Linked DNA regions of Homo sapiens: regions 2 and 3 are each linked to region 1. The links come from fine-mapping of genetic effects on gene expression. A gene starts in region 1. Each other region holds a variant in brackets. All regions are shown on one strand. Distances are from middle to middle.

The links. PIP is the estimated chance that this variant, and not a neighbour inherited with it, causes the effect.
Region 2: its variant is fine-mapped to the expression of LOXL3 in whole blood (TOPMed, PIP above 0.99).
Region 3: its variant is fine-mapped to the expression of LOXL3 in whole blood (INTERVAL, PIP above 0.99).

The regions. Positions count from the first base shown.
Region 1 is chr2:74,548,235-74,558,283 of GRCh38, reverse strand. It overlaps LOXL3 (lysyl oxidase like 3), which reads left to right and starts at 4,342. Exons shown (of 14, transcript NM_032603.5): 1 at 4,342-4,408; 2 at 5,638-5,962; 3 at 7,936-8,099; 4 at 8,701-8,915. The coding sequence starts at 5,650. It overlaps DOK1 (docking protein 1), which reads right to left and starts at 3,564. Exons shown (of 5, transcript NM_001381.5): 1 at 3,470-3,564; 2 at 2,831-3,130; 3 at 2,616-2,709; 4 at 2,206-2,390; 5 at 733-1,976. The coding sequence starts at 3,529. The coding sequence ends at 1,170. It overlaps M1AP (meiosis 1 associated protein), which reads left to right. Exons shown (of 11, transcript NM_001321739.2): 11 at 1-401. RefSeq lists enhancers at 3,263-3,322, 2,947-3,464, 4,948-5,242 and silencers at 3,473-4,222, 4,948-5,242, 5,228-5,522, 9,188-9,507.
Region 2 is chr2:74,569,332-74,579,380 of GRCh38, reverse strand. M1AP (meiosis 1 associated protein) reads left to right here. Exons shown (of 11, transcript NM_001321739.2): 6 at 2,763-2,925; 7 at 3,802-3,943. Among named protein-coding and RNA genes, the nearest start is that of DOK1, 20 kb to the right of the region's middle. RefSeq lists enhancers at 798-897, 1,717-1,896, 6,928-7,137, 8,135-8,234. The variant G/A (reference allele first, on the strand shown) is at 5,318.
Region 3 is chr2:74,329,776-74,339,824 of GRCh38, reverse strand. It overlaps SLC4A5 (solute carrier family 4 member 5), which reads left to right. Exons shown (of 31, transcript NM_133478.3): 3 at 922-970; 4 at 5,648-5,798. Among named protein-coding and RNA genes, the nearest start is that of SLC4A5, 8.6 kb to the left of the region's middle. RefSeq lists an enhancer at 4,689-4,878 and a silencer at 6,381-6,470. The variant T/G (reference allele first, on the strand shown) is at 4,572.

The DNA.
Region 1 (10,049 bases):
AGCCTCATTTCAGAGCCTGTGCCCTTCCCACTACACCACCAGGCTTCAGCCTCCAAAGAGACAAGTGCTTGGTACCTACATGCAAAGTGTGTGTGCTGGGGGGTGGGAGGGCTGCCCAGAACAGGGGAGAGGATGGTGTAAAAAAAGACCTACTCCTTTCCTGTTACCCTCTCCCCACATGTACCAACCTTCCTGTTGCTCCCTCCATCCACAGAATAATAGCTACCATTTATAAAATGTTTACTCTGGGCTGGGAGCAGTGGCTCACACCTGTAATCCCAACACTTTGAGAGGCTGAGGTGGGATGATCACTTGAGGCCAGGAGTTCGAGACCAGCCTGAGCAACACTGTGAGACCCCCCCGCCATCTCTACATAAATAATAAAAACTTTTAAAAAAACACCCTGTGCTTCAGATTACACTAAATACTTATAATGTATCTAATTTCATACAAAAAGCCCTGTGAGGTAGAGCCCATTATAGCTTTTCCATTTTACAGAGGGGCACAGGGGAAACTGAGGGTTGCAGATGTTATCACCCAGGGCCACAGAGCTCACATCTAGCCCAGGGCAGCTTGACTTGACTCCCCAGGCACTGAACCGCCACACTTCTGTTCCCTTCCTGGGCCCCTTGCCTCTCCGTGACTCTCAACACATTCCTGGTTCTCCTCTTGATCCCCACCACACCCAACCCAACCACTGTGTCCCCTCTTTTTCTCTTCACACACATAAACTTCTTAAACCCAAGCTGACTTTAATGAGAATTTTAAAATTTTTAAATAGGTCTCTGGCAAAGAACAATGCAGGAGTAAGGATCCAGGCACAGTCCAACATCTCCCTGAGGCCTCCACACAGGCCCCTCAAACTGCACCCATTCTGACCATGCACCACTTTCCACAGACCTGGTCCCACAGCCGTCCCTTCATTTGGGGAAGTAGGGAAGGGATGGCTTTGGGGGATGCAGAGCCCATCCTCAGCCCTGCCATCTGCCCCACTTCTTAGGACTTCCTGGGATTGTCCTTCCCTTGACTCTCCCATCCCTCTGGTCCCCTGGTCTCACACAGCATGGCCCCTCCCACCCTCTGGCTTCTGCTGGTTCTAACCATCTTCTTTGATCCCTAGTGCCACCTCCCCATGGTCCCCCTTAGCCACCTCAGCCTTGCCGTCCTTCTCAGGTAGAGCCCTCTGACTTGACCCCAGTCTTGTCAGTCCCTACTCTAGAGAGCCCACAGTCCCAGCTCCCTGAGGCCCCGCTCTTCTGGACCTGGCTGTACAGGGCTGAGTTGTGGCTTTTGATGCCACTGCCAGTTGCAGTACCAGGTTCAGGGAAGGCTGGGCCCTGGGGCTTGGGAGCAAGGAGGGGCTTTGTGCTCCGAGGGGGTGGCACAGCGTAGTCATCAGTGGCAGGGTTGTAGGGGAGCTCATAGCCCTCCTCCTTCACCCGAGCTTGGCACCACCATGCATCCTTGGGCTCCCGAGGCAGATCATAAAGGCCCTGGGGAGGGACTGGGGCCAGGCCCTCAGGTTCATCATAGATGGGATCCTCTTTGGGGTCTGTCAGCTTGGCCTTCAGCAACTGCTGCTGCGCATGCTCATACAAGTCCCAATAGAGAGGTTTCTTCCGTTGTACTCCCTCTCCTGCCTGAGCAGACGTGCTGTCCAAGGGGTCTGAGTATAGGGAGTCCTGGGAAGGGCATGGAGCAATGCGCAGGGAGTCTAAGGGCTCAGCATACAGGGCTGGGGGACTGTCGAGGAGCTCTTGGGGGCCAGGTGGGGAAGGCAACTTCCCCTCTGCCACCTCCCCTTCATGGGAGTCAGCTCTGAGAACATCGTGCCCCTGTCCGGCCTTTCCCTGGGCCTTCTGCCGGTGGATGGCAGTCTCAACTGCCTGGAAGATGTCATTTCCCTGTGCCGTCTGGAAGGTGAAGGTTCCAGGGCCTGAGGGGCAGCGGCGGCCGGCCTCGAAAGAGAACATGACCTAAGGAGGGTAGAGGGGGAAACACATTACCAGGAGCCATCAGAGGAAGTGAGTCACACGCCTGCACTAGTTAGGGTATCTACAAAGAAGAGACCACCTGCGAACAGACGCGGGGTCACCGGGTAGGCAAGAAAGGGGGATCCAAAGGTCAGAGCTTCCCACTTTCTGTCCTGCCCCACCCCTCCCACAGCTGCCCAACCCAGGAAGCCCTCCCGGACAGCCCCTGCACCTTGTCCCGGCCATAGCGACGCAACAGAGTGTAGGGCCAGGACAGGAGTGGCTCCAGTATCTGACTCTGGGCCCCCACGGTCAGGAGAGTCAGCCTTTCAGCCTCCACCCTCAGCACGTAGGAGCCATGCAGGCCACAGCGCTCGGCGGCCTCAGTCCTCTGCACCGTTACCCAGAATTGGGATCCTGGAAGGCATACACGATTAGACAGCTGCGGGGGAGGGACGGGGGCAGCAGTGGGGACCCAGAGGACTCATGAGCATAGTGTCCAAGCACTCACTCGGAAGCCAGATCTCAGGGCCTTCCTACTTCTTACTTCCCCATGGGCCCCTGGGTATCCACCCACTTCCCAAAGGCCCTCGGCCCTCCTCCTCTTCACTCCATCCCTGCCCGGGCTTCTGAGGCGTCTACCTTCCCAGGTAGGGCTGTACAAGGAGTTCTCCAGCATCTCCAGGGCAGAAAGCTTAGGTGGGTTATCGGTAGGCGCCAGAGTCCAGCTGCCTTTCTGTAGTAGAGAGCATCGAGAAACCCGTAATTTCCTCAGCGGGGAGCGGGGGTCGGTCTGAGGCAGCCCCATTTCTCTGCCTCTGTAACTGCCCCCACCCCGCATCGCCGCAGCTCCTCACCGGAAAGGCGTTTCGGCACAGCGTCTGCACCCAGGCTGCACTGGACGGCGCGTCGGCCGCCAGCAGGTGCGAGCGCTGAGCAGTGTCCAGGCGGAAGGCAGTGGCGCCGGGCTCAGGGGGGGTCTCCACGGTGACGGGGGCCACACTCACACACTCAGCCAGACGGATCACTTTGCAGTCCAGGCGGCGCGAGCTCCCTCGGCCACCCCCAGAGCTCGACCCCTTATGGTCAAAGAACTCGAGCCGCGCTACGCCGTGGGGACTGGCCGGGTAGAGCACGGCCCAGGTCTTCCTCCACCTCTAGGGAGAGAGAGAGAGTGCTCGAGAGGGAGTGGCGTGCGCAGGCGGCCCGGGTCCCGACGGGGAAGGAGGTTGCGGCGCAAGTCGATTTGGGATCTGGGGCTTCCAAACGGGGTTGGGGGCGAAGTTTCCCAAGGACGATGCCACTCCGTCTCCCCAGGACCAGAACCCCTAGACTACAGACGCTTCCCGGGAGTGTGCAAAGCAACTTCACGGGAAAGTCACAGGCTCTCCAACTCCCGGCGCCGCTCTCCAGCCCGCTGCCCACCTCTCCCTGTTTCTGGGCTCTCTCACCCACTACTAGCCCGGATAAGGTTCGGCATCCATGCGCCAGACTACCTTGGTCCCAAAGCGCTGACTCTGCAAAAAAAGCGGCCCTTCCATCACTGCTCCGTCCATGGCCCCCGGCGGTTCCTTCCGCGCTTCCTGGCCCTGCGGCGGGAGGCGGGGCGGGAGGCGGGGCCGGGTTCCCTGGAGGAGTTTCCGCCCCTCCCCGGCCCCCGCCGGCAGCCGCTGGGGGGGTCGCGGTGGGGTGAGGGAGAGGAGCGAGAAGGAATGGTGGAGACCCCCGGATTAGCCGGGAGCTGCAGCACCCCAGGCCCCTACCCGCCGTCGTGGGGGCGCGCCAGTGGCTCCACCGAAAGTCCTCGGTTTTGGCGCGAGGGCCCTGGCCTCTGGGCGTGGTGGCTGCGCGTGACGTCATATGCCCAAGGTGACGTCAGAGTGAAAGCCATGACATCACCCCGAAAGCGCCCCGGGCACCGGAGAGACCCACACGGGCCTCCGGGGCTTTATTTACCCTGGCCGGGCCCGCCCCCAGCCCCGCCCGAGCCGGGCTGTTTAGACTCCGCTGGCCCGGGACTCGGAGGGAGGGCTGGGGTTGAACCGCTTCCCGCCACCACCGGGGCCGCCCCGCCGCCCGGCCGCCGCTTGCATGTCAGCTCCCTGACCGCAGAGGCCTGGCCTCCATGCCGCGGGAAGAGAAAGCTTCATTGAACGAGCCGGGAGGGCCAGGGAGGGGGAGGGGGCGCGGCAGTGGCCAGCTCCACGGGGAGGGAGGACCCAGAGGAGGAGAGGAGGGAACTGGCCGGGAGGAATGGAAGGAGAAGGCGGAATGTGGGAGGGCTCAGGGGGATGTGGGAGGGACGAACGGAGAAGGGGGAGAGAGGGGGGTCCAGTCTCCCCTGGCCGAGCATTTTTTTTTTTTTTTGGAAGTCCTAGGACTGATCTCCAGGACCAGCACTCTTCTCCCAGCCCTTAGGGTCCTGCTCGGCCAAGGTAGGGGGAGTCACGCTAACCGCAGAGGGAATGAGTAGGGGATGGAGAGGATGTGGAGGGACCAGGGAAAACGGGTGGTGTGGGATGGAGTCGAGGGGAAGCCACCCAACTGAGAGTTTGATTCTTGTCAAAGGGCAAGTGAGACAGAGTACACGGAGGAGGCACATACCGGAGGCGGGGGCTACGGGTGTTCGAACAGGGCCGCCAGGAGCGCCCTAAGGGAGGGGGCTCCTCCGGGAGGCGCTGCCCCTGGGTCCCCAACCCAGAACAAAGCTGCCTTGTTGGATTGATTGTTTGGGTTGGGGGAAGCATGTTGACGGGGGCTTGCTGTAGAGGGGCTGTTCTCAGCCCTAGGCAGAGAAGGCCTTGGCTGAGGAGCCATAGCGCCTGGCCTCCCGTTGCCCGGTGACAGGGATGGTGGTGTTGGCAGGAGGCTGGGACAACCCTACCCCATCCCCCGCCCAGCCTTGAGGCCTGGCCCTCCTGGGCCTCTTGACCCTGCAGGGCATCTGAGAGCCTGCGTGTTGGGGAGGGCGTGCAGCAGGTTCTCCAGGCGAGCTTTGGTGCCAGCCTTCCCTGCCTGGGAATCTGCTGGGTTAGGACTCTGGGCTCCCATTCAGGGGATCTGTGATCCCAGGGCCGCCTAGGGCCCCTTACGTGCCTCTCTGCACAATCAGTACAGCTGTCTGTCCTCCCTCTGAGTAAATGGGGTCATCTGGATCCCTCCCACGTCCGCCCCTTGGCTCTTGTCAATCCCTCTCCTTCTCACCCGCGGTGTGCTTGGTTCCCCTATACTGAGTGCTTAGTTCTTTGCCTATCACTTTCTATCCGTTGTCTCTCTCCTCTGTGTCTTTCTGGTTTTCTCTCTCTCATTCCCACAGTCTCCCTTCCTCTCACATCCTGTCTGTCTGGGTCTTCCTCTCTCTCTACGTGTCTCTTGCTCAGTCTCTATCTCTTTTTATTGACCCTTCTCTGACTCTCGATCTCTCATAGTTGTCTCTTATCTCTGGGTCTCTCAGGCTGTGCCTCTATGACCTGTGCCTCAGCCCTTATTTAATGTGTTTCTCTCCCTGTCTCTTGGTCCCTGGGGCTCTTTCTCTCCTGTTGTCTCTCGCTGTCTCTGTCTTACTCAGTGTCTGTTTTTCTTTCGTGACTTCTCCCTCTCTTTCTGACTCTGGGCCCCACTCAATCTGTTTCTCTCACGCACACTTTGTCTCTGGGGCACCCAGGCCTTCCCTGCCATGCGACCTGTCAGTGTCTGGCAGTGGAGCCCCTGGGGGCTGCTGCTGTGCCTGCTGTGCAGTTCGTGCTTGGGGTCTCCGTCCCCTTCCACGGGCCCTGAGAAGAAGGCCGGGAGCCAGGGGCTTCGGTTCCGGCTGGCTGGCTTCCCCAGGAAGCCCTACGAGGGCCGCGTGGAGATACAGCGAGCTGGTGAATGGGGCACCATCTGCGATGATGACTTCACGCTGCAGGCTGCCCACATCCTCTGCCGGGAGCTGGGCTTCACAGAGGCCACAGGCTGGACCCACAGTGCCAAATATGGCCCTGGAACAGGTGAGCAATGATCCAGGCATATCCTAGATATTTCCTATGTGTGGCCAAAGTGCAGGGAAAGGGAACACGAGGATGGCACAGCCATAGGGACACACGACACCAAGAACAGCCAGCATTGAGTAAATCCATGGATGACAAACCAAGCAACATAGTTACTTCCCAGAGCTGTGTGACCTTAGGCTAGTCAGTGCTTTCTCTGAGCCTCAGATGCCCTGTATGCAAAATGACTAGATGATGTCTAAGTTCTTTTCTGCTGCAAAAGTATGATCCTACAAAGCCATCCACAAAACAGCCCAGATACAGGTGAGCCCTGTACAAATAAAGTACAGTTAGTCTCATGGGACGCTAAGAGCAGGTAAATGATATCTGGATGTCCCAAAGTCACAAGGGGTCACAGACACTGCAGCTAACAAAATCAGGTTATGGGCCAGAGCTAAAACTAACAAGGTGGTACTGTCTAAGGACAAGTATAAAATCTAGGACAAGTATGAGTGTGGGTGGTGGAGGCTTAAGAGCAGTTCCCTAGGTGAGGCCTAGGACTGTGCCCATGGTATGAACCCACAGTGGGAATGATGGACAGAAGCAGGTGCAACCTGCAGCTGATTCCCCAGTTCCCACTGGCTAGACCACCTGTGGAATTAAGTGTCATTTGTAGATGCTGTGTTTTAAGAGGGACAGTAGAAAATGGAAATACTTTCAGAGGAGAGCTGCCTAGATGTGAAAGATTCAGAAGCCAAGTTTCAAGGAGGAATTGCTGAAGAATCAGGGGATTGATATGGAAAGTAAAAACCTTGCATAGCAATGGCGTAATGGTTGTTTTTAAATATGGGAAGGACAGTCGTGTGGCTGAAGGATTTTTCTGGTTGGCACCAAAGGAATGAATCAGATGTGGTAGGGGAAAGTCATGAAGAGTCACAAGGACTTTGATGGTTACACAGTCTGGTGGGGCAGGAGCTAGGTGTCTCCGCAACAACTGGGTAAGTCCTGTTGGGATGTGAATGAGATGTCCTTGAACATTGGCTAGGACAGATGACCTTTGAGGCTGCGCCCAATTCTGAGAGGAAGCCAGTGATACTCCACAGGGTTCAGGCCGGGCTCAGTGGCTCACGCCTATAATCCCAGCACTTTGGGAGGCTGAGGTGGGTGGATCACCTGAGGTCAGGAGTTCGAGACCAGCCTGGCCAACATGGTTGAAACCCTGTCTCTACTACAAATACAAAAATTAGCCAGGTATGGTGGCACATGCTTGTAGCCCCAGCTACTTGGGAGGCTAAGGCAGGAGAATTGCTTGAACCTGGGAGACAGAGGTTGCAGTGAGCTGAGATCATGCCACTGCATTTCAGCCTAGGCAACAGGGCAAGACTTCGTTTCAAAAAAAAAAAAAAAACAGGTTTCAGACAGAGAGAAGAACAAGGGGCTATATGGCAGCACAGACAGGGCGGGCACAAGAGAGAATGCAAGGATGTGAAGAAAGGATCTTAGACATCCAAGCCTCACAGATAGATCAAACTCCTAAGCCCCCACGTATTGGCTTTATGGTCTTAAGCAAGTTGCTCAGCTTCTCTAAACCCCAGTTTCTTTATATAAAACAGTGTTCTGGCAGCTCTGTTCTAAGAATGATCACATATGTGCACACCATGGCAGAGCACCTGGCACACAGTAGGTACCTGATTAATTGTAGCTATCAATGAATGGGTAGAGACTGATCAGAACTTCAGGGTTGATTCTTGGTTTTTTATTCACCGTATCAGGTTCTTGAGTATCCCCAGATCACACCAATTTTCCCTCAATCTTATGCCCCCTTCCTATTCCCTGCCAGGGTCCCCTGTCCCGTCTCCACCCCTTATCATACCAGAAAGATGGGATCATCATGGCCAAGTGGGAGGCCTCAGCACTCACTCTTCCCTACATCCCCATTACTCCCCCATCCTCCCTCCCCAAGCTTCTCTGTCCCTTCATCTCCCCTTCCACAGGCCGCATCTGGCTGGACAACTTGAGCTGCAGTGGGACCGAGCAGAGTGTGACTGAATGTGCCTCCCGGGGCTGGGGGAACAGTGACTGTACGCACGATGAGGATGCTGGGGTCATCTGCAAAGACCAGCGCCTCCCTGGCTTCTCGGACTCCAATGTCATTGAGGTCTGCATTTCCTAGACATACACACACACACTACCCAGGATAGCCGAGAGTACTGTGGGGTGGTTAGCGGAGACATTAGAAGGTAGTTACCCCTGGGGGATCATTTGGATTGGTGGGAGACTTGGAAAAGCAAATGATAGAGCTCCCAGATGCTGTAAAATCCAACAGGTTTTTAGCATTCACATTCAAGGGGCTAAACCTGGCATGAGCCTCTCCAGCTTCATCCCTAGTCACCCCTGGGGCACCTGGTGCTCTCCTTCTCCTCAAATGTTCCTGCTTTCCTGAGACATCTTCCTTCTGACTTTCTCCTCCTTCAAAGCCATTTCCTTTTTGAAGTGCTCCCTCCTGCTCCAGGCACAGGGAGGGCCTCCTTCCTAGTGCCCTGAATCCTCTCTGGGAGCACAGCACATCCCACGCGCTGCTGGCTGCAAGAGAGTCCACACCGCGGACTGCGGCCATCGTGGCCGCTCTCTCAGCGCCGCCTCGGGCCCATCCCGCCACTGGGTTTACAGCAGGCACACCAAGCAGGGTTCCTTAAGGGCGGCGGGACACATGAAAGGTGCCACTGGGATTCTTTCCCTGCTTGTGGCCCCGCCCCCAGGTAGAGCATCACCTGCAAGTGGAGGAGGTGCGAATTCGACCCGCCGTTGGGTGGGGCAGACGACCCCTGCCCGTGACGGAGGGGCTGGTGGAAGTCAGGCTTCCTGACGGCTGGTCGCAAGTGTGCGACAAAGGCTGGAGCGCCCACAACAGCCACGTGGTCTGCGGGATGCTGGGCTTCCCCAGCGAAAAGAGGGTCAACGCGGCCTTCTACAGGTGAGGGGCCGCGGGCGCCGGGCGGAGCAGGCCGGGATTGGGGTGCTCCCTGATGAATAGCCTTGGGAGACATCTGAGCAGGTCCGGGGCACGGGAGGACCCGGGGGTCGGGACGCGCGGGAAAATATGGAGGCCGTTGCAAAGCTGGAGAGTTGGGAAATCTTGTGGGACCACGAAAGGTGCCCCAAGGGAGTACCTGAAATGGGGACCAGCGAGGCTCCCGCTCTCTCGTGGCCGACGCCTGGGCGGGCAGGCGGATTCCTCGGCCCCGGGGCGCGCGCCGGCCTCGCGAGGCCACTCCCAGGCGCGGGGGCGATTCCAGCGCTGGCGCTGCCGGCCAGCGATTTCCGAGTTCAGTAAGGACGCGGCCGCCCCTGGGAGGCGGCGCCTGGGTGTGTCCCGCGCAGGCTGGGCGCCCAGGGTCCGGGGGCCCGGGGACGGCGGCGCGCGATGGCCGAAGGGCGCCAGGAGAGACCGCGCCAGTCTCTCTGCCCGGGCCGCCCCGGGGCGGGGCGCGTATGTGAACGCTCGAGCCCTCGGGGCTCCTGGAAGTCCTGGAAGTTTCCCAGGATCTCTTTTGGCGAGGCCCAACCTCTCCACCTGCGCTGGAGCCCTGGGGTCCAGTCCGGCTTCCAGGGAAACGCATCACCCTGGAAACTGCCTGTGCTTAACGTCTCCCTTCCCTGGAACATCTACTTTGATCTTTTTGAGAAACTGCCATTGACAGCCAGGCATTTATTTGGAAATCTTTACACCCTCTCACTGTAATCTATTTTGCGAGCCAAAAATCCTCCCTTTCTTCAGTGGTTCCCTAGATCAGTATTGCTGAAAGGCCTCTTGATGTCCGGATAGGTTTCCGCGGGCACACTACTTCAGATGGGGTCTGATGCCGCCAGCTACTGTAGAAATCCTCAACCCCGACTGAAGCGTGCTCGGATTACACTGTCTTCCTACTGCGGCAGCTTCCCACTGCTTATACTGAACTTGTCATCACTTAAAACCAGTTCAGGTCTTCCCTATGCTTCCTACTGATAGAGCAGCCTTTTCCAACCCAGGTATAGGTGACGTTTACCTATTACATTTGTTTTGATACATAATTTAGAAGCCATAAAAAAGCCATGATGATCCCATGAG
Region 2 (10,049 bases), 21 kb before region 1:
AACCTGGGCCTTTATCTACTATATTAACCTGCCTCATGCTAAGCAATTCTGAACAAAGGGGCTAGAGATTCACTTCTTTCATTAGGAGGGCTGGTGCCCTCAGAGGCCAGGAACTCCTGTAACCAGCCTTTCTTCCACTATCACATGGCATTTGCCCATGGTGCTAATCAGAATTTCTCTAGCTTCCCCTCTGTCTTTCCAAAGCTTTCAGCACCAGGATCAGAGCCAGAATATTTAACTCCATCTATAATCATTTTTTCAGAAATCTGTAGGTCTTCGGGATGCACAGTGGAACTTATATCCAGACTGCAGTCAGCTTTTCTGCTGGGGAGGTCTTCACTGGAATCCAGATGTTTAGGCACAGCTGGAATGAGGTCTGGGGAAATTAGGCCTCTTCTAGGGTGGATGTGACCCACCTGAGATTTTAAACACAATAAAGATTATGCTGGCATTATTATTTTAAAAATTGATGTATTGCCACACATGTAGATTTCTGGAGTATGGCTCACTACAAAAAATGAAAGAAAACAAAACAAAAAACCCAAGCTTTCCTCCTCTAGACTCTTTGGGGTATGCATCTCAGATGTTCACTCTGACTCCTTCTTACAAGGTTCTCTATCTGATGCCAGCTGCTTCTTTGCCTAGGGCCCTTCACCCCGTCTTTAGGTGCTTCCCTTAGAAAGGCGTTCCTCTGACAGAGCACACAGTGAGTTACACATGAGTTTCTTTTCTTGTTCTTAGGTATGGTGTCTGCCACATCTGCATCTGGGCTCTGGGTGGGAGAAGCACACCTGGTTCTAGATTCAAGCCCAGCTAAAACAGCTTTCCCAGCTTTGGGACACTCTGCTGAGACCACAGTTTGGGTATTTCTTAACCCAGGCTGCAGTAAGAATCACATGGGGAACTTATAAAAAATACCAGTGTCTCAGGGTGGGGAACATCATACACCGGGGCCTGTCATGGGGTGGGGGTTTGGGGGAGGGATAGCATTAGGAGAAATACCTCATGTAAATGACGAGTTAATGGGTGCAGCAAACCAACATGGCACATGTATACATATGTAACAAACCTGCACATTGTGCACATGCACCCCAAAACTTAAAGTATAATAAAATACCAGTGTCTGGGCTTCACCCCCAGAGACCCTGATTCAGTTGGTCTGGGGTAGGGCCCAGACATCAGTATCTTTTTCAAGTTTCCTAGATCGGGGTCCCCAACCCCTGTGGCCTGTTAGGAACTGGATCAGCAGGAGGTGAGCAGCAGGTGAGCAAGCATTACCATCTGAGCTCCGCCTCCTGTCAGATCGGCTATGTCATTAGATTCTCATAGAAGCCCAAACCCTATTGTGAACTACACATGCAAGGGATCTAGGTTGTGCACTCCTTATGAGAATCTAACTAATGCCTGATGATCTGAGGTGGAACAGTACCATCCCCCACCACCCCATGGAAAAATTGTCTTTTATGAAACCAGTCGCTAATGCCAAAATGATTGAGGATTGCTGCCCTAGATGATTCTTACTGCAACCAGAATTGAAAACCTCTGCCAGATGAACACAGCTGTCCAGTCCTAAAGCCTCAGGACCGGAAATGGAGAAGTCAGGCACAGAGGAAATAAGAGGAAGCTGGAGTCCTAGGCAAAGTCCCTCCTACTGACTTCCTGTGCTCTGGGACATGTCAGGCTGAGGGCCGTCTCACCCAGAATGAATGTCTTATTCACAATGTCTAATGTGATAAGACCTAATGTCTAGGTCTTATTCACAGGGCCCAGGAGGGCCAGCTGGATCTAACATCTGTTCTGCCACTCTATTTTTTTCTATGTTGTTTTTTACCTCATATTGCAGTTAGTACAGTCATTTCACAAGTCACTAGCATCAACTACCAGCCTTCTCAGAAGTACTCAACATTTGTATATTCACAAGTTTGTTATCACTATTCAAGCCAGGTATACGTTTTATTGAAGAACTTTGTAATATCAAGGATTTAAGCTTGTGTAACAGATCATCATACACTATGGCATATGCAGTTACCTACTGGAGCAGAAGCTTAATGCAGAAGAGTAAAATACCTAGATGAGTAACTCCTACCTAGCCTAAGCATTCCTCAGAACTGTTGTCTGATGCCACTGTGATGCTCCAAGGCCCAGAAGGTCCTAAATTCATGTTTCTTTGGGGAATTAAAAAATAAGCTATTTCAGGAACTTATTCCTTTCCCCCCACTCTGAATGTCCCTGAACGAGCCCACAGAGAAACAGTAGCAGTCATCTGACTGCCTGACTTCTGCTTTACTGCTCTTCCTTCATCTGACCTGCACTGTTGCCAAAGCTTAGCCACAAGGAAGCAGCAGAAGCAAGATTTCCTTCTGTGATTGCCAAAGGGCCTCTGCATATTTTGGCATTAGCTACCTCCTCCACAGAGGATACATGTTCCTCAGACTGGATCACAAGCCAGATGTCTCACTATGAGACAACTGCTCAGCCAGCCCAGAAGTAAAACAAGTAAAGATCATGTCAGACTCTTGAAGATAAGTTAACTTTTATGTAGAGCGATAGAGATACTATAGCTTCCAGACCTGTTCTCCCTTTCCAAACCAGTCAGGCTTTCCTCTTTCCACTCTCCTGCCTCCTCCTATCCCTTGCTTGCCTGGTAGAGATGGAATGGGTAGCAGATGTTGTCTCTTAATGGCATAGCCTAAGGTAACTTATTACCCACAATCCTTCCTCCAATTGTAGTGTGTCTGAAATGTAATCTCCTTTTATTGTAGTGTGTCTGAAATGTGATCTCCAAGAGCGACTGCTCTGCCCATCCCTACTCGCTGGCACAGCTGACGGCTCCTTGAGAATGGATGACCCTAAAGGAGACTTCATCACACTCTACCAGATGGCTTCCCAGTCATCGGCCTCTCATTACAAGCTCCAAGTGATCAAGTATGGTCCAAGGGAACCTCCCCAATCCATGCAAATGCTATTCTTAGTGGTTCTGTGGCTAGGAACTCCAGAGATAGATGGTATCTCTTAAGTGTCAGGCAGGCAAGAGTCAGTTCCGAAGTAGCAGTTACAGCTATGGCATGAGGAAGCAAAGACAGGCTACTCAGCATGTGGAGGCCAAATGTGCAGATGGTGGGAGAAGCGCTGCAGTAGAACACTCTGAGGTCTGCATGAGGATTGTTTTTCTTTTGACTCATTAAAAAGGTGTTTATCCATTTAGTAAATGTTTATTGAATAGCTACTTTGTTTAGGCATCAAGACAGAGATCCAACCTTCAAGGAGTAAGTGGTACATAGGATCTACCCCTGCCCCCTCCCATTTCTCTAAGTACTAGAATTCCTTCTTCCAGGAGAACCAATTGTAGGATAGAATTAGCAGACTAGGCACGGTGGCTCATGCCTGTAATCCCAGCCACTCTGGGAAGCTGAGGCAGGAGGATCGCTTGAGCCCAAGAGTTCAAGGCTGCAGTGAGTTAATTGAACCACTGCACTCCAGCCTAGGTAACAGAGCAAGCCCTTATCTTGAAAGAAAAACAAAACAAAACAAAAAAACACAATGAATTAGCAATAATGGCAGAGTCTGCTTCAACTCTTCCCAGTTCCTACCACTGTGCCCATGCACAGGTTCCTGAACTTTGACAATCTTCTGTGTGCTAGATACTATGCTAGATGCTGGCCATACAAAGATGCATAGTTCACAGACACTAATTTAAAAGCTTTCACAGTACTGTCTTAGAGTTAAGCTGAATTGAAGTGGATCTAGGTGGAGGTTCTAGATATCACTAAGGAGTCTTTGACTGTAATTATCTCTTCCTAGGGCTTTAAAATCTAGCGGGCTCTGCGAGTCATTGACATATGGACTCCCGTTCATCCTCAGACCTACAAGCTGTTGGCAGCTGGACTGGGATGAGCTGGAGACAAATCAGCAACATTTCCATGCTTTGTGTCACAGCCTGCTGGTGAGTACCCATGTCCCCAGGTGAAAAAGAAGAATCGTTTTTAAAGTACCAACCACAGAAAAGCAGCTAACTAACTCTGCCCAATCCTAAATCTGCCTCAACCCTCAAGAAGACAGAAAAAACTGGAAATACTCTGAAATTTGGAGTAAATATGACTTGCCTTTTGTTGGTTTCATGCTATAGAGAATAATTCCTGAATTCAGTTATACAACACTAAACTTGAAAATCCCCGATTGGCAAGCTTAACATTTAAATGGCAACAGGGAATTTTCCGTACGTACCTGTATTTTAAAACCTACTTCCTTCCTAACACTGATAGACGTTATGGTTCATTTAAATGAAGAGCATTTAGTCTATGCCAGACATTGTGTCAAGCCCTAGATATATATTCTGTAGTGACCTAAAAGACATTACCTATGACCTTAAGAAACCCACTCTCCAATGGAAGAAACAGAAATGTATATATTCTTAATTATGAGAAGTTTATAAAGGAAAAGAAAAAGCTGCTATAAGAAAGCCTGTCTATAGAAGTGACATTTAAACTAAGACCTACAAGATAAGTGAGAATTAACCAGGTGAAGGGTGGCAGGCAGAGCATTCCAGGTGTAAGGAAAGGCATGTGCAAAGACCCTAAGGCTGGAAAGAGCTGAGAGAAAAATCAAGAACAGAAAAGCCATTGTGACTGAAACAGGGAGGAAGGGAGAGAGTGACAAAAGGTAGGGTTGGAGAGGTGAGCAGGGGTCAAATCATGCAAAGCTTTGTAGGCCAAATTAAGGATTTGGACTTAGGGAAACAAATCATGAGAAATAACATTATCTATTTCAGTTTTTAAAATATTACTTGGGCAGAAATTTGGAAATGAACTCGCAGAAGCAAAAATGGAAACATGAAAATGAGCTAGGAGGGTATTGCAGTAGACTAGTCAAGAGACCGTGGTGGTTTGAACTAGAACATTGGAAGTCAAGATGAGATGAGCAAACCAATTAGAGAAATATTTTAGAATCGCTTCTTGGCCTTTTAGCTATGACCAAGTGTAGAAATATTTTAGAGAGAAGATTGTCAGAACTTGGTTGAGAGATTGGATATAGGGAGTGAGAAAGAGGAAGTATCAAATAACTGCATGGTTTCTGACTTGAACAACTAGATGGATGTCATTCCCTGAAATGGAAAAAATAAAAGCAGTCACATGAAACTAACACAACACTTAGCAAAATTAAAACAACTGCAAATAGAATGCAAGGACAGATATAGAATAAAGGTTTGACTTAGTAGGATGATCAGGACAGCACAGCAATGCATCTCTTTCACTATCAGAAGCAGACTTCTTTTTTTCCTGTTTCGAAGCCCGCACTCCCTTTTAGGTCCACCCACTGA[G/A]TTCCTGTTTCCTGTCTGAAGAACACCCATCTCCTGTCTTTGCAGAGCAGAGACAACGGAGCCGTTGTAACTGTTAGTGCCCAACAGCTCAGTTTACTATTTACTCCACCCAGTTCCTCAGAATCTGAGATGATACATCACATGGGAGGAATTTCTCCCAGGTGGCTTCAATACATTCTTACAGTATTTGATATTTTAAACATACATTGACATTTTAATACACTGCTAGAGAGGATGTAAATTTTCCGGAAAATGATACCCTTTCCTTTTGCTGGGAATGTAGCCAAAGAAGACAGTCAGGAAAGGGATGAAGATATATGTACCAGCATGTTCATCTCGGTGTTATTTACAGTGGTGAAAAATTAGAAACAACTCAAATGTCCTAAGTAGGGGAAAAGTTATAGGAACTATAACCTGGTGTGGTGACTCACGTCTGTAATCCCAGCACTTTGGGAGCCCAAGGCAGGTGGATCACTTGAGGCCAGGAGTTCAAGACCAGCCTGGCCAACATGGTGAAATCCCACAGCTACTAAAAATACAAAAATTAGCCAGGCATAGTGGCACGCACCTCTAATCCCAGCTACTCAGGAGGCCGAGACATGAGAATCACTTGAACCCGGGAGGCAGAGGTTGCAGTGAGCCAAGATCGCACCACTGCACTCCAGCCTGGGCGACAGAGCAAGACCCTGTCTCAAAAAATAGTTATAATAGGCTGGGCACGGTGGCTCATACCTGTAATTCCAGCACTTTGGGAGGCCGAAGTGAGTGGATCACAAGGTCAGGTGTTCGAGACCAGCCTGGCCAACATGATGAAGCCCTGTCTCTACTAAAAATAAAATAAAATAAAAAATTAGCTGGGCGTGGTGGCAGATGCCTGTAATCCCAGCTACTTGGGAGGCTGAGGCAGGAGAATCGCTTGAACCTGGGAGGCGGAGGTTGCAGTGAGCCGAAATCGTGCCACTGCACTCCAGCCTGGGCAACAGTGTGAGACTCTGTCTCAAAAAAAAAATAGTAATAATAAGGATGGGAAAAAGTATTCCCTTCCATCCTGGCTTACATACACGAGATTAGAGTCTCCCTGCCACTAAACTCAGGGTTTGAGGATCTGTATTTATCTATCTGTCTATTTATTTATCAAATATTTACTCACCACTGTATGCCAAGCACTGTTGTAGAGATGAAGAGACCTTTTCTTTGTTAGTCTTCTGTCTTGGAAAAGGGCAGGGATGTAGTTGACCTGTCACTAGTAGATACCCATATTTTGGAGCATTTACTAAGTGGTAGTCACTTAACCAAGTGTTTTGCATACTTTACCTCATTTAATCCTCACAATAATCTGAAGTAGAGATTGTTATCCCAACTTTTGCAGATGGAGGAGGCTGAGGCCTAAAAAGACCAAGTAAGTTACCTAAGGTCACACAGCTACCAAAGTAGTCTTGTCAGAGTTTGAGGACCTAGCTCACACATGTAATCCCAACACTTTAGGAGGCCAAGGCAGAAGGATCACTTGTGCCCAGGAATTCAAGACTAGCCTGAGAAACAGAGTGAGACCCTGTCTCTATTAAAAATTAAGAAATTAGCCAGGAGCAATGACTCACACCTGTAGTCCCAGCTACTCGGGAGTCTGAGGTGGAAGGCTTGCCTGAGCCCAGGAGTTCAAGGCTGCAGTGACCCATGATCGCACCACTGCACTCTGGGCGACAGAGGGAGACACTGCTTAGGGGGGGTGGGAAAGAAAGAAAATTTAAAAAGAATTTGAACCTAGTTCTGTTGACTACAAAGCCCATGTTTTTAACTTCTTTGCTAAATTCCCTACTCTGGATGTAGCCAGATAAATACAGACTATAACACTGAAGCTAATTCTCCTTCACTTACACCCTATGCTTCTGTACTTCAGCGGAGTTGAACTCACTTAAAATGGCACAGTACTCATAACAACGGCTTACTCATCTTGTACTGCTGTTCTCTTTACTCCGTTTGGTCCACCTCATCTAGATTAAAGACCACTCTCCTATTCTGGAAAAGACAGCAGCAAAACAGTTTTCTTTCTTTTTTTTTTTTTTTTTGAGACGGAGTTTCGCTCTTGTTGCCCAGGCCTGGAGTGCAATGGCACAATCTTGGCTCATCACAACCTCCACCTCCTGGGTTCAAACAATTTTCCTGCCTCAGCCTCCCGAGTAGCTGGGATTACAGGCATGCACCACCACATCTGGCTAATTTTTTATTTTTAGTAGAGACGGGGTTTCTCCATGTTGGTCAGGCTGGTCGCAAACTCCCAACCTCAGTTGATCTGCCCACCTCAGCCTCCCAAAGTGTTGGGATTACAGGTGTGAGCCACCGTGCCTGGCCGCAAAACAGTGTTTAAATGCCTCTTCCTTCTTGTTTTTCACATGACATTTTCTCCAAGCAGCAAAAATCCTGAATGGCAGTATGTTATAGAGTACAAACTTTTCACAAACTTCAGCTCATTAATTCAACACAAATATTTTTAAGTGTGACGAGACTTATTTAGGGTTTTAACCTCCTAAGCCTATTTTTACAAGTTTGCCATGCTTCTTTAACTCCATCTTTGGTTTTTTATTCTTTCATATACCTTTTTCATATGTTCTTTTAAAATCTGATTTCAAGTCAGCTCCATATTTAACTCTCTTGCCTTCTGTTTTTCACTGTAATGTTCCCCTCCAGCCAACTTCTCATTCTAACTTCTGCCTTTCTGTTAATAGCAGCACCGCCATTGTCTAGTCACCCAGGCTTGAAACCTCAGTCACTTTCAGCCATCTCACCCTTTACACCTACTCCATCACTAAGTCATATCAATTTTCCACTCATAACATGAGTTGTAACTCTCCTTTACTTCCTGTTCCCACTGCTTGTCTCACCAAGACTTCTTCAGTAAACTCCTAACTGGCTTCCCTGCCTCCAATCTCTCTCTCTTCTGGTTTTCCCTGCACATTGGCACTAGCTTAATCTCCTTGAAGCATTCCCCTATCACATGTTTTTCTATGTATCAATACTCAATCACGTATTACACCTTGCCTATTCTATCCCTATAGCATCTGTTATCACTATCCTAATTCAAGCCCTTTTAACCTTTCCTTTAATACTGCAATAATCTCTCAACTTGTCTCAATGCTTTTTTAGTGCTTCCCATTCCTAGTCCATTTCACATAATGCCAACAGATTAATCTTTTGATTAATCTGATTCAGCACTGATTCTGCCACTACTCAGCTGAAAAATACTTTGTGGCTTACTATTGTTTATCCATAAAGTCCATATTCCTTAGCCTAATATTCAAGGTCCCACCTTATCTCCCATTATTCCCCTTCATGTACCATACACTCCAACCAAATTAATACAGAAACCTTAAATTTTTCCACCTTTGAGCCTTTGCTCATGTTGACCTTTCTCTCATCTCTGTGTGTTCAAATCCTACCCTATCCTGAAAGACCAAACTCAAATGGTACTTCTTGAATGGGAGCTCTCTAGTTTCTTCCACTTGTCATTAGACATTTGTATGCTGTTTCTTTTTGGAGAAAAACATATTTCAAATAGGTTTTTAAATATAGGATCCTATGTTTGAGATTAAAGTCTCAGATATAATTTGACTACCCAAACTCCAGATTGACATAGTGCCTTTTCTATCGCTTCCCCACTTTACTAACCAATTCCTAGGCTTTGGTCAAATTTAGGCCCAGAATAGAAATTCCCCCCTTTCTTACTTCTCTTTTTGGAGGAGTCAAGGCAAGGCAGTTTTCTAATATGTTGTAGTAAAATATAATTTGTGTTGTCCAGGAAAATCCTGGACTGTGGAATCAGACGGCCTTAGGTTCCTGACGCTTTTTTTATTTCCCGACTGTGTGAACTTAGGCAACTTGCTTACCCTCACTAAGTATTGGTGTATTCATCTATTTGTAACCCTAACAAATTTAATGGCCCCTACGTGGCTTAGTCTCTGCACAAATGGCATATATGGAAGCACTATCAGAGGCCCAAAAGTAAATTTTAAAGTGATTTGTGTATTCAAAGGACACCAAAAAGGATCTAGTTCATAACCCATAATGACATTTCTCAAATTTTCTTCCCCCACTCCTCAATTATCTCTAACCTGAAGCTGTTCCTAGAACCTTTCACACACACACACACACACACACACGCATGCACACACACACATACACACACACACACAAATTATCTCTACCTCCTCAGTCCCTGTTCTCTCTCAATCCTCTTCCTCCCTCTCTCAGCCATATATTATAAATTGACTTAGCCTCTCTGACATAATGTAGTCCTCCTCTCTCTCAGGTCCTGTCTCTTTCTACCTATTTAAAATACTAAGAAATAAAGCTGATAAGGCTTCTCCTTTAATCAATAGAAGTAGAGTGAGGGAGGGCTGGGCACAGTGACTCACACCTGTAATCCCAGCACTTTGGGAGGCAGAGGTGGGCAGATCAACTGAGGTTAGGAGTTCAAGACCAGCCTGGCCAACATGGCGAAACCTCATCTCTACTAAAAATACAAAAATTAGCTGGGGGTGGTGGCACATGCCTGTAGTCCCAGCTACTCGGGAGGCGCGAGAATCACTTGACCCCAAGAGGCAGAGGTTGCAGTGAGCCGAGATCGCGCCACTGCACTCCAGCCTGGGTGATAGAGTGAGACTCCATCTCAAAAAAAAAAAAAAAAAAAAAGTAGAGTGAGGGAGAAGGTGCATGACACACACATTAGTAACTCTTG
Region 3 (10,049 bases), 220 kb after region 1:
TTTATTTATCCATCTGTTGATGAATATTTAGGTTGTTTCTACCTTTTAGCTATTGTGAAGAATGCTGATATGCACATTGGGATATAACTATCTGTTTGAATCCTGGTTTTCAGTTTTCTTGGGTGTATACCCAGAAGTGGAATTTACTTAATTGTTCTTGAATAGGGAATACCTCTGTATGGTGGACAATATAAAAGGTACAAGAAGTCATAGAGTTCCCTGAGCCCCGACCTCCAAGTTCCCCTCCCAGGAAGCATCACTGTAACCAGTTTCTGTGACCTCTTCCCTGGAGAGACCATACTGTACCCATAGGCACCCTCTACACAGGCATGATGACAGCCATAAGCACTCTTCTACACTTTCCCTTTTTCCTACTTAACAATATTTCTTTTTTAAAAATTTAAAAATCTATTTATTTTTTTCTTCAACTTTTATTTTAAGTTCAGGGGTACATATGCCAGATGTGCAGGTTTGTTACATAGGTAAATGTATGCCATGGTGGTTTGCTGCACAGATCATCCCATTACCTAGATATTAAGCCCAGCAAATATTAGCTGTTCTTCCTGATGCTCTCCCTCCCCTAACAATATTTCTAAAAAAATCATTCCATAGCACCATTTAAAGAATATCCTCATTCTATTTAAAAGGTTCATCGTTTTCCAAAGTAGAGACAAAACTTGTTTTTCTTTCTTTCTTTTTTAAAATCAGTCCTTTATTCATGGACATTCAGGTTGTTTCCAATGTTTTGCCACTGTGAACAATGCTCGGATGATAACAGCCAGCATTTCCTGAATGCTTACCATGTGCCAGGCCCTTGTTAAAATCCTTCCCATGTATCATATTTAATTCTCACTACAACTGTGACATAAGCACAGGGAGGTGAGTAACTGTCCCAAACCACATCTCTGTTTTTGTCCACAGGTGGGAGTGTAAGATAACCTTCCAGATAAAGAGTTGCTGCTACCAAAAGGTATGTCCATTTTATTTATTTATTTTTATTTTTATTTTTTTGAGATGGAGTCTTGCTCTGTCACCTAGGCTGGAGTGCAGTGGCACGATCTGGGCTCACCACAACCTCTGCCTACTGGGTTCGAGCAGTTCTCATGGCTTAGCTTCCCAAGTAGCTGGGACTACAGCCACTACACCTGGCTGACTTTTGTATTTTTTTAGTAGACATGGGGTTTCACCATGTTGGCCAGACTGGTCTTGAACTCCTGGCCTCAAGTGATCCACCCACCTCAGCCTCCCAAAGTGCTGGGATTACAGGCGTGAGCCACTGTACCTGGCCAGGTATGTCCATTTTAAAGTTATATAAATACAGCCAAACTGGCTGCATCGAGGCTGTGCTTATCTGCATCTCACTGGCAAGTAGATGTATGAGGGCCCATTGCCCTCCTCTCTCACTGTTGAAAAATTTCTTGATATCTGCCGATCTGAAAGGTAAAAAATGGTATTTCATTGTGGTGCTGATTTGCATTTTAATTTTACTTGTAGATTTTTAAAATAACACAGTTACAAGATTCAAAATTTGAAGAGTACAAGAGTAGAGACAAACCCCCATCCATGTGTCTCCCCAGTGCCCAGTTCCTGTCCCCAAACAAAATCAGGCCTCCATTTGCCTCCATTTCTCCCTCCTATGCCTATGGTCAAAACCTGGGCCACACCATTATCCTTAGCTGCTCCATCTCTGAAATATTAAATTCAAACATTCTACTCTGATCTCGCCACTGTCCTATTAACTACCAAGCACCTGACCCTCTCTTGATGCCCCACCTGCCCTTTACCTTACCTTCCTTTCCCATCCAGCTGAGGTTCTCTGCCCTCCAGAGGCTCCATGTCAGGCGCCACTGGGCTCCAGCCACACCTGCCTGGAAAGCCTTACTTTCTGTTTCACGATACCTAGTTCAGAGTCAGCCCACCCATGGGATCACTCTCATTTAAAGATCTTAGGCAGAATAACCACATAATTTACTGCTCAAAATGGGACCCTTTTGAGAATGAAAGGAGCACAACTAATTATGAAGCCAAGACAACAGGGGCAGATAGTTACTGTCCAAGGCAGATCGGGATGCAAATTCAAGCTCAATCTTAAGGAACAATTACATTTAATTTCGGAGCAGAGATCAATAATATGTGCTGAGCCCTGCGAATGATTTAAGTTGCTGCCTTTGTCCGCTGCCCAAGCTTCTCTTCTAAATGGATTTTTTAAACAGTGCATTTCCCTAACACTATTTTCTTAAAACTTTATCCTTTAGAATACCAGTTTCGGCCCATAAACTCAAGTGTGTAAAAAAATTAGTTTGTTTATAAAATTCTCCTTCATCTGTACTTGAGCCCCGCTCTTTAAAAAGGTGCTGACCCTTAATCCCAGTCAGTTCTGAGTTTCCTTTGCAGTTTCCATTTTGGGTTTGGGGTGGGGTGGAGTGCAGGGTTCTAGACTCTCAGTGACCTACAAAGGGTCCTGCCCTTCATGTCATCTATCCTTGTCCCATCTGGTCCTGGGTCGTTGGTGCCTGCAGGTTATTGTGGAGGTCAAAGTCTCTCTCCACCTCTTCAAGCAGCCTCACTCAGGGAGCTTGCCTGGGGTCCTCTTGGCCTAGATACACCCAGCAGCTGTTCTGTTCCCTGCTCTCAGATCCACAGATTGTGAGGGATGCTGCTTTCTCTGTGGGGCTCAGTCCAGGGAGCGGGGATTGGGACCTCAGCCTCCAGGACCTAGCAAAGTCAATGTTTCTCAACTTCCCTCCAGCCTTTGTCCTTGCCCTGGGGAATTATTCTTGGATATGAGTGAGGGGCAGGGAATGCCTTGATCTTTCTCATGACCATTTTCTCCCACACTTTGGTCTAGGTCTAGGCCAGAAGTCTCTTCTATTCCCCTAAGGAAAGAGGCTCCTTACCTCTTCTTTCTGTTTTCACACACCTTCCCTGCAGCAATGAGCATAGAATGGCCTGGCTATTTGAGGCAGGGAAGGGAGAGAGGTAAGGGGAGTATCAGGCTGGAGAAGGCATTGGCTAATATTTCAGAACATAATCTTGCAAGGCATATAAAAATATCTTATACAAGATGTGCTTCCTGTTTTAACTATTATGATTTTATAATTTTTCAGATCTTGTAGGCAAGACTCCCTATTCCCATCCCCCAGGCCAGGGCAGCCAGTTATCAGCTGTGTGAACTTGGGCAAATTATGTTATCCTCTCTAAGCTTTAGTTTTTTCGTCTGTAAATGAGGATAATAGTAGTTCATATCAGTGCTTCTACTTGCCAAGCACTGCTCTCAATGTTTCATGTATGTTACCTCATTTAATACTCATCATAAACCTATGGGATAGCTGCTATCATTCCCATTTTACAGATGAGGAAACCACTTCTCACAGTTGTAACTTGCCCAAAGTCATGTGATCTCCTGCTCTTAATCACTTCCCCAACCTGTCTTTCATAAATATTAATAATGACCTCAGCCAGGCGTGGTGGCTTACTCCTGTAATCCCAGCACTTTGGGAGGCTGAGGTGGGAGGATTGCTTGAGCCCAGGAGTTCAAGACCAGCCTGGGCAACATATTGAGACCTCATCTCTACAAAAAATTAAAAAGTAGCCTGGTATGGTGTGGCACCTGCCTATAGTCCCAGATATTTGGGAGGCTGAGGCAGGAGAATCGCTTGAGCCTGGGAGGTCAAGGCTGTAGTGAGCTGTGATAGTGCCACTGCACTCTAGCCTAGGTGACAGAGTGAGAATGCTGTCTCCACAATAAATAAATAAATAAATGAAATGACCTCTTGAGGTTGCTGTGAGGATTAATTGAGGTAAGGTATGTAAAGCTGTCAGCCCTGAGCCTAGCACATAGTAAAAACTCAGTACATTCTAAGCTCATACTTTAGCCATGATTTTTTGGTCATTTTCATTCAAAATGCCCTTGGAATTGTATTTAAAATATATATAAATGTCTGAACTTAAGCATATTTGCCCTATTCAGTTTTCCCATCCAGAAATATGATGTCTTATTATGTGTTTCTTAGCAAAGTTTTGCCACGTGTCCTCATATAAAACATGCATTTCTAGGCGAGTTTATTTCTAGATGTTTTAGGGTTTTTGTTTTTATTGAAAATGAAATCTTTTCCTCCATTGTATCTTTTGATCAGACAGTGCTGGTGTCTCCAGGTTCTTATTAGTTAATCAGCTCCCAGATGTCTCTAGAGGCTATGTCTTTCCATAGCCCTCTTATTTTAGGTTGACATGAAGATCATTTGGCCCAGCCAGTGACATACGCTCTGAGAGAGAGGCACAGGGGCACAGGGTGAGAAGTAGCTTTCCAGGGTAGCTCAGGTTGGCTGAGGTGATCAGAGAACTGTCCTTTGGCTAAGGAAGTACAGCCTGGGGAGAGGGGAAGGAAGGGGCCAGCCCTTGCTTGGCTGCATGCTGTTTCTGGGTCCATTTGGGGATCTGTCTGAAGAACGAGTTCCTAGGTACCCACATTTCCTCTGTGGCCTCAATGATTCCCAATAGTGTGTGCCAAATGATGGCTCCAGTGGCAGCTCTGCCAAGGCCCAAGATGCCTCCGTGGGCTCTAGCTTGCT[T/G]AAGTAGAGAGACTGTCATCCAGCAATGTCTCATTCTTCATCATGTGATTAAGAGCAGGAGATCACATGACTTTGGGCAAGTTACTTACAACTGTGAGAAGTGGTTTCCTCATCTGTAAAATGGGAATGATAGCAGCTATCCCATAGGAAGTGGAGGATACATAATCTGTGGCGTCCCTGAATCAGCTCCCTGCCTGACTCCACTGCAGACCTCCAGAGGGCAGCAGAGAGCAGGCAAGACGGGAGAACAGGACTTGGTTCCTGGAGAAGCAAAAAAGACTCTCTGCTCCTGCAAGCTGCTAGGAATACTGCTCATCCCCCTCCCCGCCTCCTCAGGATACACATGTGAGCTTCTTCCTGAGGGTGTAATAATTATAATAATATTATTAGTTAATACTAACTATTCCCTGTGGGCCAGACATTGACCTAAGGTTTCACATTGATTCAGATAACCATTGAGGTAGATATAATTATTATTCGCATTTTTTTTCAGTTGAGGAAATTGCAGTGAAAAAAAAAAGAAGTTGTCCAAGATGCCACAGTTAGTTGAGTCAGGATTTGGACCCAATCATTTATGAGCCAGGCTCTATTCTAGGTATCAGAGATACATCAGTGAATAAGACAAACTTTCTGCCATATTGGAGGAACAGACAAAAAGTGAACAAATGAATAAACACATACTGTGGTTTTGGATAGAAATGCCATTTAGACAAATAAAGCAGAGTTAATGACCAGAGAGGGGCATTTTAGATGGGCTGGTCAGGGAAGGTTTTCTTGGGTAGATGGCATTTGACCAAATAGTTGAATACACGAGGTAGCAAGTCAGGCTGAAGATTAGGGAAACAGTAAGTGCAAAGGTCCTGAGGTGGGAATGAGCCTGGGGTGTTAGAGGAACAGCAAGACTTGCGTCGTGGCTGCTGTAGAGTGAGCCGAGTCCATAGGCCACAGCAGCGATTGGGAAGTAGATAGGGGTGGTGAAGAAAGAGAACTCCTCCACAGCATCACCTGGGCTTGGCCTCTTACAATGTCTCAGCTTCTCTTTAACATATCTCTCACCTTTTTTCACCTTCCTGCAGAGTGCTGACACCATCACAGTATGTTCCCTTCTCAACCCTGGACATGGTTCAGAAACAGCTAAAGCAGACAAGAATCTGGGGCAGCCAATATTGTACCACCTGCCAAAGCTTGGCACAAACAATCTGGAAGCCAAAAATTGCACATACTGTGGTGAGTACTGCCCAGCCTGTGGGGAACTTCTTGTGGGTAAAGGTTCTAGATAAGCCTGCCAGGGCCCCCAAATGAATCCTTAGTCCCATTAACAAGGGCCTAAGTCCCGCAGGCCTTTCCAGGGTAGGAAGCTGCTATTTTCTTCAAAGAATTTTGCCCCCATGCCATGGTCCTAGGTCAGACCTACCTAAATCCTTTCAGATGTCAAACCCAGGTAGGGTTCAGATGGCATTTAGCCAGGAGATGGAAGGGAATCCGTCCCAGTGAGCAGCCATCACTGTCCACCAGGTATCTGAAGAAAATGGAGGCACAGAGGTCAAACAGTCATCCCTCAGCATCTGCAAGGGATTGGTGCCAGGACCACCCGTAGATATCATAATCTGAAGATGCTCAAGTCCTTCACATAAAATGTGACCTATGCAATCCTCTGTTTATCTTAAATCATCTCTAGATTACTTCGAATACCTAATACAATGTAAATGCTATGTAAATAGTTTTTTATACTGTATTTTGGGAGTATTATTTTTTATTGTTGTATTGTTATTTATTTTTATTTTTTCAAATATTTTTGATCTGCTGTTTGTTGACTCCTTGGGTTAGGAACCTGTGGATATAGAGGGCCAACTGTACTAAGAATCTTTAGCTCCCTCTCCTGGCAGATCCCTGGCGAGTGAGGTGGGCCTATGTTGAGTGCTCCTTTTGCCTGAGTGAGAGCCTAGAACCAGAGACTGAATGCCCTAATCCAGGATTTCTTGATCATGGCACCATTGATAGTTGGGGTCAGATAATTTTTTTGTTGTGGGGGCCATCCTTGTAGGACGTTAGCAGCATTTCTGACCACTACCCACTAGAGGCCAGAAGTACTCTCCCTCCAGTAGTGACCTTCCCTCCAGTATAACCAAAATAGATCCAGACATTGCCAGATGTGCCCAGGGGAAGACACCTGTGGCTGAGGAACACTGGGGCCAGTTCTTTCCCTTTCCCCAAGACCAGTGCATGAGCCTCAGCTGTTACCACTCTGGTGGTGAGGAAGAGTTGACAGTATCCCCCAAGCATTTACTTCAGTGCCACAGCTGAGTGGCTGGCTTGGCATGTCCTTGGCTGTAACATGGAAGGAGGCCAGAGGACAGGGAGCAGAGAGAAAAGGGGTAGCCATATCTTCTCTCAACATTTTTTGGCTTACAAAACTAAACCACAGGGAAGGGCAGGGATGAGGTTGGCCATACACATCACAGGACTAGGTCTTTCTCTCCCTCCTCATCTCTCTCTCTCTTTCATGCACATACATGCGCACACACACGCACACACACACACACACACACAAATGGACACCCCTCTGCCATTCTGTGTATTGGCTTTTCTCTCTCCCACTGAAGACAGGCTTTTTCCAGAGACAAAAGAGTACTTTGTGCAGGAGGAAAAAGTTAACGAATGGACTGATTTTGCCCAAGAGATTGGCAGGGCAGGAATAAGAGGTTATGAGTATCAATGAGAGAAGAGAGGAAAGGATTCATTATGATGTCCAGACCAGAAGGGGAAGTAAATGAAGCCATGAGGAGCTGGTATATGGGGAGAAGAGGAAGATGCCTGAAGATCAAAGGTCTTCATGCAGTTGAAAAGCAGGAAAGAAGGGAGTCAGAGCTTGGGAAGTTATCCATTAAGAGTCCCAACATCTGACCAGAACTGTCAATGTATGTTTATTTTGCTTCAGCGATAATTTCACTTAGACACATAGAATCGTAGGGCAGTAGAGTTTCAAAGAAACTTAAGAGATCCTTGAGTCCAACCCAGTCTATGTGGACTCTTTTACTAATTCTTCAGTGCTGGACTTTGAGAATGAGACTTGTTCACAACCCCTCTGTGCTTAGAATCAAATGAGAAATAAGATATAGAAGTCCAGCAGCTGGAACTAAAATAAATTTATGACAGCTAAAGCTGATTGGAGAATGTGGTTTTGAATGTACAGTTGGGCTTCCTAATTCTTTCCCTCAGAATGAAACTTATCTACCCAGAACTGGAAGACTCCCCTATCCCACAACGCAAGAACCTGCCCTTCCTAGGGCAGGTTGAAAAGAAGAGGAGAGGAGGGAAGCACAGGCCTTCTCTGAGGAGGCTGTTCCCAGAAGGAGGAAATCCAGAAGAACCTGAGTCATGACATATGCCCATTTTATGTGCTCCAATTCTCCAAGCACACGAACCACTCATCCTCTGCTAGATAGCATGAGTTTAGAGGTAGAGCAGTAAGTGGAGAGTACTTTTCTCAAGGCTGCAGCAAGGACAGAAGTTCCCACTTTATAAGGTGAGGCAAAAGTGCTTGGAGGGAGAGAGGTAGATTTCCCCCTGACAAATGCCATTTAATAGAGCAAACTCTGCTCCAAGAACACTGAGGCCCAGAGAGGTGATTTCCCAAAGGTACCATGGCTCTGAAAGAATAAGGGTCTCCAGACTCCTAATGGTGAAATTTCACCATTTCACATGTGTAATCAAAGGAGGACAGGTTCTTCCACATTTATCAGCATAATAGCAACAACAATCTTCTATTTCTTCATGCACAAGGCCTTCTAACTCCTTCCTTCATCACTATCACTGCCTCCACATCCTCCATCTACACCTTGCCACCTCTATCTACACATCACACCCTCATCCACACCTCACCACTACCATCTACACCTCACTACCCTCACCTATACCTCACCACCTACACCTAAACCACACACCTCCATCTAGACGTCACCACCTCCATCTAGACATTACCACCTCCATCTAGACCTCACCACCACCATCTAGACCTCACCACCCTCACCTATACCTCACCACCCACACCTAAACCACACACCTCCATCTAGACCTCACTACCTCCATTTAGACCTCACCACGTCCATCTAGACCTCACCTCCTCCATCTACACCTCACCACCACCATCTATACGTCACTATCACCATCTACACCTCACCACCCTCACCTATACCTCACCACCTACACCTAAACCACACACCTCCATCTAGACCTCACCACCTCCTTCTAGACATCACCACCTCCATCTAGACCTCACCACCACCATCTACACCTCACCACCCTCACCTATAACTCACCACCTACACCTAAACCACACACCTCCATCTAGACCTCACCACCCACATCTAGACCTCACCACCTCCTATACCTCACCACCTACACCTACACCATACACCTCCATCTAGACCTCACCGCCTCCATCTAGACCTCACTGCCTCCATCTAGACCTCACCACCTCCATGTAGACATCAGCACCTCCATATAGACCTCACTGCCACCACCATCTAGACCTCACCACCCTCACCTATACCTCACCACCTACACCTAAACCACACACCTCCATCTAGACCTCACCACCCCCATCTAGACCTCACCACCTCCATCTGACATCACCACCTCCATCTAGACCTCACCACCACCATCTATACCTCACCAACCTCACCTATACCTCACCACCTACACTTACACCATACACCTCCATCTAGACCTCACCACCTCCATCTAGACCTCACCACCACCATCTACACCTCACCACCCTCACCTATATCTCACCACCTACACCTAAACCACACATCTCCATCTAGACCTCACCACCACCATCTACACCTCACCACCCTCACCTGTATCTCACCACCTACACCTAAACCACACATCTCCATCTAGACCTCACCACCATCTAGACCTCACCACCCTCACCTATACCTCACCACCTACACCTACACCACACTCCTCCATCTAGACCTCATCACCTCCATCTAGACATCACCATCACCATCTACACCTCACCACCCTCACCTATACCTCATCACCTACACCTATATCACACACCTCCATCTAGACCTCGCTACCTCCATCTAGATATCACCACCTCCATCTACACCTCACGACCACCATCTACACCTCACCACCCTCACCTATCTCTCACCACCTATACCTACGCCACACACCTCCTTCTATACCTCACCATCACCATCTACACCTCACCACCCTTGTCCACACCTCATCACCATGTATACCTCATACCTCCATCTATACTTCACACCACCATACACTACCTCACCATCTCCATCTCCACCTCACACCTCTGTCTACAACTTACCACCTCCATCTACATCTCATCACTTCCATGTAAACCTCACCACCTCCATTCACATATCACATTTCCATCTACACTTCACCCCCCATCTACACCTCACACTTCCATCTACATCTGATCACTTCCATATACACCTCACC